Linked DNA regions of Homo sapiens. The protein of the gene in region 1 purifies or fractionates together with the protein of each later gene. This does not show direct contact. Each region holds a gene or a part of one and is shown in the gene's direction. Other genes may lie near its edges.

Region 1 (3,500 bases):
ACCATTTTAAGGCTGATTTTGTTTTATCGGCACAGTGACTAGAATTTTTTATTGAACAAAGTTTCATAATTTATCTACATATATCAGTATGTACATTATTTAATAGGAGGAAGATCATAATTTGTAAAAAAAACTTTCTGGACTGACTTTAAATAATATTCTAGCAGTCTAAAATATTGTTCACAGAGCCATAAAAACTCTATAAATATGAAGAAGCTCCTGTTACATTATCTCTTTTTTTGCTAAGTGGTGTGCAGATGAAAATACAATCCTATAAATTGACTAGCTGTTGTGTTTTATTGGTAGTCTTTTTTTAATGCTTCTGAACAATATTTTTTACTTAAAATGTCTGAACAATATATTTTCATTGAAAATATAGTCTTGGAGACCCCATGAATTGTAAAAGGTAAACTGTTAACACTGGTAGCCTGTTAAACTTACACAGATTCACAATTTTATTTTCTTACTTTTGTTTTAGGGGCTTCCTGGTCCTCCAGGGCCTCCTGGAGAAGGTGGAAAACCAGGTGATCAAGTAAGTGTTTAAATAATAATAATGGCAACACTATACATTGCTGGCTCAATTATCACTTTTTATGTGTGAGGCTCTGTTGTGCTTTCCTTTACATACATTATCTCTTTGAGTTCTCAAAGCAGCCCTATGTACTAGGTACTATCATTATCTCCATTTTGTAGATGAGGAAAATGGGGCATACAGATGTTAGATAACTTTCCCAAAGTCACACAGTTAATAGATTTGAACCCAGGTCATCTGCTTCCCAAGATGTGTTCTTAACCACTTTATATAAACAGTTATGGACAAATACTAACAATTTTATTCTGTCGTTTTCCTGGCTCATAGATTTATTTATTTTTCTTTGAATGATTCATTTGTTCATTTAATCATTTAATAAATATTTGCTGAACACTCTGTGTGCTTGCCTCTACAAAGCACTGGCCTGAACCAGCTGAACAAAATGGATTTGGACCTTGCTGTCCTTACAGTATAGTAGGATTCAGAGAGTATAGGACAATTACAATAATAGCATGCTCTAAATGCTATAATAAGGGAGGTACTATGTTTATGGAAACAAAAAAGATGCACCTAAATAAGACTTGGGGGTTTTAGGAAAGGTTTTCCAGACAAAGTAATATCTTTTATGAGATCTGAGAGATGAATGATGATAATGATGAAGGAGGGAAGATAGGAAAAACCTCCAGGAAATGAGACAAGCTTACAAATCAGAGTGGGTAATGTAATTTGGGGAAAATAGAAAGGGGGCTGCAGGGTGACTCAGGGGCCTGATTATGGAGGGCTTTAATTTGATTCTAATTTGTTCTTCATCATTAGAGTAATGGGAAGCTAAGGAAGAGTTTTTAGGCTGGGCACAGTGGCTCACACCTGTAATCCCAGCACTTTGGGAGACTGAGGCAGGTGAATCACTTGGCATCAGGAGTTCGAGACCAGCCTGGCCAACCGTCTGTACTAAAAATACAAAAATTACCTGGGCATGGTGGCACATGCCTGTATTCCCAGCTACTTGGGAGGCTGAGGCAGGAGAATCACTTTAATCCAGGAGGTGGAGGTTGCAGTGAGCCAAGATCATGCCACCATTGTACTCCAGCCTGGGTGATAGAGCGAGACAACGTCTCAAAAAAAAAAAAAAAAAAAAAAAAAACCAGAAAAGAAAAAAGAAGGGTTTTTAAGGAAGGAGTAATATGATAAGATTAGGGAGATCAGGCCACAGTGAGGACAGTCCATTTCGGAGAATAAGATTGGAGGCCTATTTGATAAAGTTATCTTTATCAAAGAAAGAAATTTCAAATTGACAAACTTTCTTTTATGTAAGAACAAACAAACTTTTAATTTAGACATGACTGCACTGGTTTGAATGCACAATACCTAGTAGAGTGCTTTGTCCATATTATAGGCTCAAGAAAGATTTACTTAATTGAGTAGAATTGGATTGGTTCTATTTAAAAGACCAACTCTTTAGCCCTTTTTATATAACTTTTCTTTATTTAAACTTTTTCATCTTCCATTAGTTTAAAAAAAGACATTTAGCATGTATTTTGTTGCCTCTAAAAAACTAATGCTCTATCTTTGTGAAATAGTACTTTGCATGTTCTCATTGCCAAAAATCAAACATTCAGGTATAATACAAAGTTTTTTGGAAAAATGTTTTCATCTAAAACATGTAATATTCCCTCATTTATAAAAATATACGTACTTTTCTTTCTTTAAATTGTTGGCTTATGCAGCCTTCTAATGGCACATTAATAGAAACTAGGTGTATGAACTGGAAAGTTTTCTGATAAATGCCTAAACTCAAAGCTCTTGTTCCATTAAAAAAAAAAAATGTGTTTATAGGGTGTTCCTGGAGATCCCGGAGCAGTTGGCCCGTTAGGACCTAGAGTAAGTATTTTAATCTTCATGATTAATGTTGTTTCCCACTGGCTTCAGTTTTAAAAGGTGTCTTTTAAAATCTTAAACTGGGATTTATTTTAACCTATAAATTCTTTGACTGGATAAAAATTAATTTTATGAGAAATATTTTGTGCTATGAAACTAGCATATCCTTACTTCAAATTTATTTCTTATCACTAAATTAGAAAATTGAGATTTAGTAATGTCTCATTTCTGAATTTTTCCGCAGTAGAAGCCATTTCTCAGAAACATTTTGACCTATTTTTAGATCAAGTATTGAGATTATTTGACATCCCAATTTTGTGCTAGGGAGAACGAGGAAATCCTGGGGAAAGAGGAGAACCTGGGATAACTGGACTCCCTGGTGAGAAGGGAATGGCTGGAGGACATGGTCCTGATGGCCCAAAAGTAAGTGTCATAGTGATCTCAGTGTTTTAAAATGCTTTAAAATTACTGCTTAATAAACGCATGATGGTGTGAGAATGCATTTGTCTTGTTTTTGAAAGATAATTTGATTATATCATTTTCTTCTTCCACAAATATTTAATGAGCGCTTACTAGGCTTTTTCCTTGCAACTAAAGTGTCAGCTAAAAAGAAGACTCTCTTCTTTGATGGGGATTGTAGTTTAGTGCACATGGTGATAGACTTCCATATACAAACACATTTCTAATGTTTATGTACATTTTATTAGTGGCTTCTATGAATAAACAGAGGAAAGAAATAGAAAATTACATAATTTATTAGGAGGCTTTTCTAATAATATGCTCCATTTTCCTTGTCTCAGGTTTCACAATTCTGCTTACTACATATGTGAAAATATGGAACTTTTAAAATCTGAAAATATAATGCATCATAAGGCAGAAATGTGTGCCATTTAGTGATTGGTAGAAAATAATGTGGCCAACTTCAGTATAAACAATTGAAGTAGAATTTTTCATGGTCATGTGACATGAGACCCCTTATTATTTTCAGGGTTTAGAGTGATTGATGCAGTCTACTACAATTTAGACACTATATTAGCCTGAAAACCAGGTTAATATCAAATATCAGTTTCATTAAAGAGAGAATGAAATA
Region 2 (3,500 bases), on another chromosome or scaffold:
ACTCTCCCTCTGTTGCCCAGGCTGGAGTGCAGTGGCGCTATCTCAGCTTACTGCAAACTCTGCCTCCCAGGTTCAAGCGATTCTCCTGCCTCAGCCTCCCAAGTAGCTGGGATTATAGGCGTGCACCACCATGCCCAGCTAATTTTTGTATTTTTAGTAGAGATGAGGTTTCACCATCTTGGCCAGACTGGTCTCAAGCTCCTGACCTCAAGTGATCCACCCGCCTTGGCCTCCCAAAGTGCTGGCATTACAGGCGTGAGCCACCATGCCCAGCCTAAACATCAGAGAGATTATTATGTAGTTATGGAGACAGGTGCTGTGAACCCCAGGCTTGGGGTTCAGTGGAGGCCTCTCTTTGGAAGTAACATATCAGTTGAGACTTAAAAGTTGAGTGGAAATTAGCTGGTAGAACATGGTTTCTGGCAGAAGAGAGAGTGTATGTAGTCCTGTAAGAGAAAAGGAACTTGGGATGTTGGAAAGGTAGAAAAAGGCTGGTGTGTCTGGAGAGAGGCTAGTGAGACTGACAGGGCCTTGGGGTTCTAGAAAAGAATCTGAGTTTGATCCACAGGGCTGTGAGAAGCCATCAGAGCTTTTGTCTTATTCATTTACCATATGTCTGTCAAGTACCCTTCAGTGAGTCTGGTATGTGTCCTGTGGAAATATTTTTTACCTCCAATTTTTATTAAATTATGGACAAAAAAAGTAAGAGAGCCAGATGGGAAAGAAGTAGTGCTTTGGCCATGAGTCAAGGCATGCTCTGTGGGCATGAGTACAGCCTTGCTAGTGTGGAACTTGTGTTCAATGTAGTTTAAGGCCTTACCATAGGAGAAAGCAGGGCCTCTAGAGACACAGTGCCCCACCCTTCCACTCAGTTGGCCCCAGGAAGGGTGGCTACTCTGGGAAGGTGAAGGTCTGACTAGAGCAGCAAACTACTAGAGCCAGAGAAACAGAGCTGCAGTGGGGACTGCACATGGTGTTGGAAACAGTACAGAGCTCCTGGTCAGGGCACTTTGCAGAGTACAGTGGCTTAGGCAAGGCCAAGGCTAGATGGGGATTCAAAGGGTGGGGTCAGAACAGGCATTTTCTGAGTACAGACTCAGATTATTTTCATCCAGGGACAGCCCGGATGTGGGTCTCCTGTGGGCCTCAACTCTTGAACACTCATGACATGGAGACTGTTCTAATGAATCACACTGGTTAAGTAGGCATGGGAAGAGCCTTTCTTGGCTAAAGGGCTGGCCATGGAGCAGACACCAAGTAGTGTCACTCATGCTGAGAGGAGGGCAATCTATATACCTTGTCATGTCCTTTGTGGCTCAATTGCTCTGAGAGCCTTGGGTAGGAGGGTCAAGCTCTATGTCTTATATTTCCAGATGAGTGATGTAGAAGCTGGTGGTGCCACCGTCTTCCCTGATCTGGGGGCTGCAATTTGGCCTAAGAAGGTAAGTTCTGATTCTTGTGGGTCAGAGGTTGAAGCAAGGCTCAGACTTTACTTTGTCCATGTCCCCCAGTACCATTACCTGGCCTGCCTGATTGTCACTGTGATGTGCCTTAGCCCACCTGGGGTCTGACCTGGTAGCCCAGCTTCTCCCTGTGAAGAAAGGACAGGGAGGGAAGTCCCTTCAGGGGCGGGTGAGTTCCCAGACTTCTACCTCAGAAAGGTAGGTGCTTTCTGGGAAATGTCTCTGTTGCTGGAGTCCCAGAGCCCTATCCCCTGTCCATGGGAAAATGAGGGTGTTTCTGCTCAGGGCAGAGCTTCTGTGATGCTTGCAGTCAGGTCCCTGAGCACAGTCTCTTAAGAATGTGTTCTGAAAGGCCATCTCTTTCCCAGGGTACAGCTGTGTTCTGGTACAACCTCTTGCGGAGCGGGGAAGGTGACTACCGAACAAGACATGCTGCCTGCCCTGTGCTTGTGGGCTGCAAGTGGGGTGAGTGTCTTAAGGGGTAGTGTTGGTGTTGGTGGCCTCAGCTTGGGCTTTGCTTATTGGCCTTAGATTCTGAGCTGGGAGGCAACTGCTGCCAAATTTGCTGAGACTGTCTCCCTTCTTAGGTTTTTTTCTGCTGTTATTACCATCCAGCCATGTAATGTCCATGCAGCTGGTAAATGCCAAGGCAGCTGGTTGGAAACACTCAGAGATACACAGGAAGCTGAAGAAGGCCTGAGGACGAATAGCTGCATAAGCACCATAGGTCCAGGACCCTCTGGCAAGGCTTCTGAGGGAGCAGAGTGGAGAGCTGGAAGCAGTGAGGGGAAAGAGTGTCTCAGGCAAACAAGGCCCATATGGATGGAGGCACAGGCTAAAACCAGCATACGGGTGTGGGGGCTGGCTCCCTTGTCACTTGAAGAAAGGGAGGCCTGTGGCACAGGGGCCAGAAGATGAGGCTGGAGGCTGGGACCAAACTGCAGAGGCTCAAGCTTGAGCCTTATCCTGGGAGCAGTTGTGGTGAGCCTCGGAGAGGCTCAAACCAGGATATGACAGGAAGTGTTTGTAAGGAGATGAGTGTGTAGCCCCCTTGGAGAGTTTTGAAGATAAATAGTGATAGGTTTGCAGATAATTAAGCAAATGGAAAAGAAAACAAGGCAGTTGCTGAATTCAGGGGAAAAAAAGTTGTACAAGAAAGGAAATGTAAGTATAATCTACTAGATGGCTCAGGTGTAACACATGATATAATTATGTACACACTGAGTATTACTTTAACTAAAACTTATGATTTACCTGTACTGGAAAGGTGGGAGGGGATGAGTTTGTGTTTTAGGGGTAGAATAAAAGAATTCCAAAGTTGAAAGTCAAGGAATAGAACTATAAGCATCTTATCTAGAAAAATGAGGTTAAATATCAGAAGAAACAGCTAGAGGAGTTTAATGTTCCCTGGGAGTGGAGATTAGGGATGGGAAGGAGAGGCTTAGGAGGAGTGCTATTTATCATTATAAGCCTTGCGACAATTTTATTTTTTTCAATGAAGTACATGTTATTACTTTATATTTTAAAAGCTCTGTGACTTCAGTAGTGCATTGAAATAAAATTTTTATTCATTATGAGAGAGTCTGTGAGGAACAGAATCATGGTTCCTGTGTGTTTGAAGATATGGCGTGGGGTGATAGTGCTGGCAGCAGCTCTGTTGCTCTTGTGCCCATGGCATACAGACTGGATCTGCTGGTCCACGGCTCCTGAGGTTAATGTCCAAGCCCTCTGCAATGCTGACAGTCTTCCTCATCCTCACACCCTACCTCTCAGTTTCTACCTGCCACCTCCCAGTAATATTAGGCCTCTTGAGTCCCCAACACACGTCAGGGTGGCTTCTGCCTTGATTACTTTCTCATCCTGTTGTCACTCCTGGGACCCTCTTGGTGAGAGAACCATCTGGGTATGCCCATCTTCTTCCCAGGATAACTTCTATGTAGCTTTATATTCTAGCCCTAGGATTTCCTCTTCCCTCTAAGAGCAAGAAACATGTGTGCAGGTTGCCATGGGAATAGAGCCAAAGGGCATCAAAGGTCA

What was found. Proteins that work in one complex are often made in the same cells at the same time.
Region 2: the proteins of COL5A2 (region 1) and P4HA2 purify together in Homo sapiens (co-immunoprecipitation; one large-scale study listed by IntAct). This does not show direct contact.

Annotation. Positions count from the first base shown.
Region 1 is NC_000002.12:189,057,762-189,061,261, reverse strand, and holds part of COL5A2 (collagen alpha-2(V) chain preproprotein), read left to right. Parts: intron 1-478; coding exon 479-532; intron 533-2,368; coding exon 2,369-2,413; intron 2,414-2,734; coding exon 2,735-2,833; intron 2,834-3,500. UniProt on the Homo sapiens protein: Type V collagen is a member of group I collagen (fibrillar forming collagen). It is a minor connective tissue component of nearly ubiquitous distribution. Type V collagen binds to DNA, heparan sulfate, thrombospondin, heparin, and insulin.
Region 2 is NC_000005.10:132,193,354-132,196,853, reverse strand, and holds part of P4HA2 (prolyl 4-hydroxylase subunit alpha-2 isoform 2 precursor), read left to right. Parts: intron 1-1,373; coding exon 1,374-1,442; intron 1,443-1,831; coding exon 1,832-1,928; intron 1,929-3,500. UniProt on the Homo sapiens protein: Catalyzes the post-translational formation of 4-hydroxyproline in -Xaa-Pro-Gly- sequences in collagens and other proteins.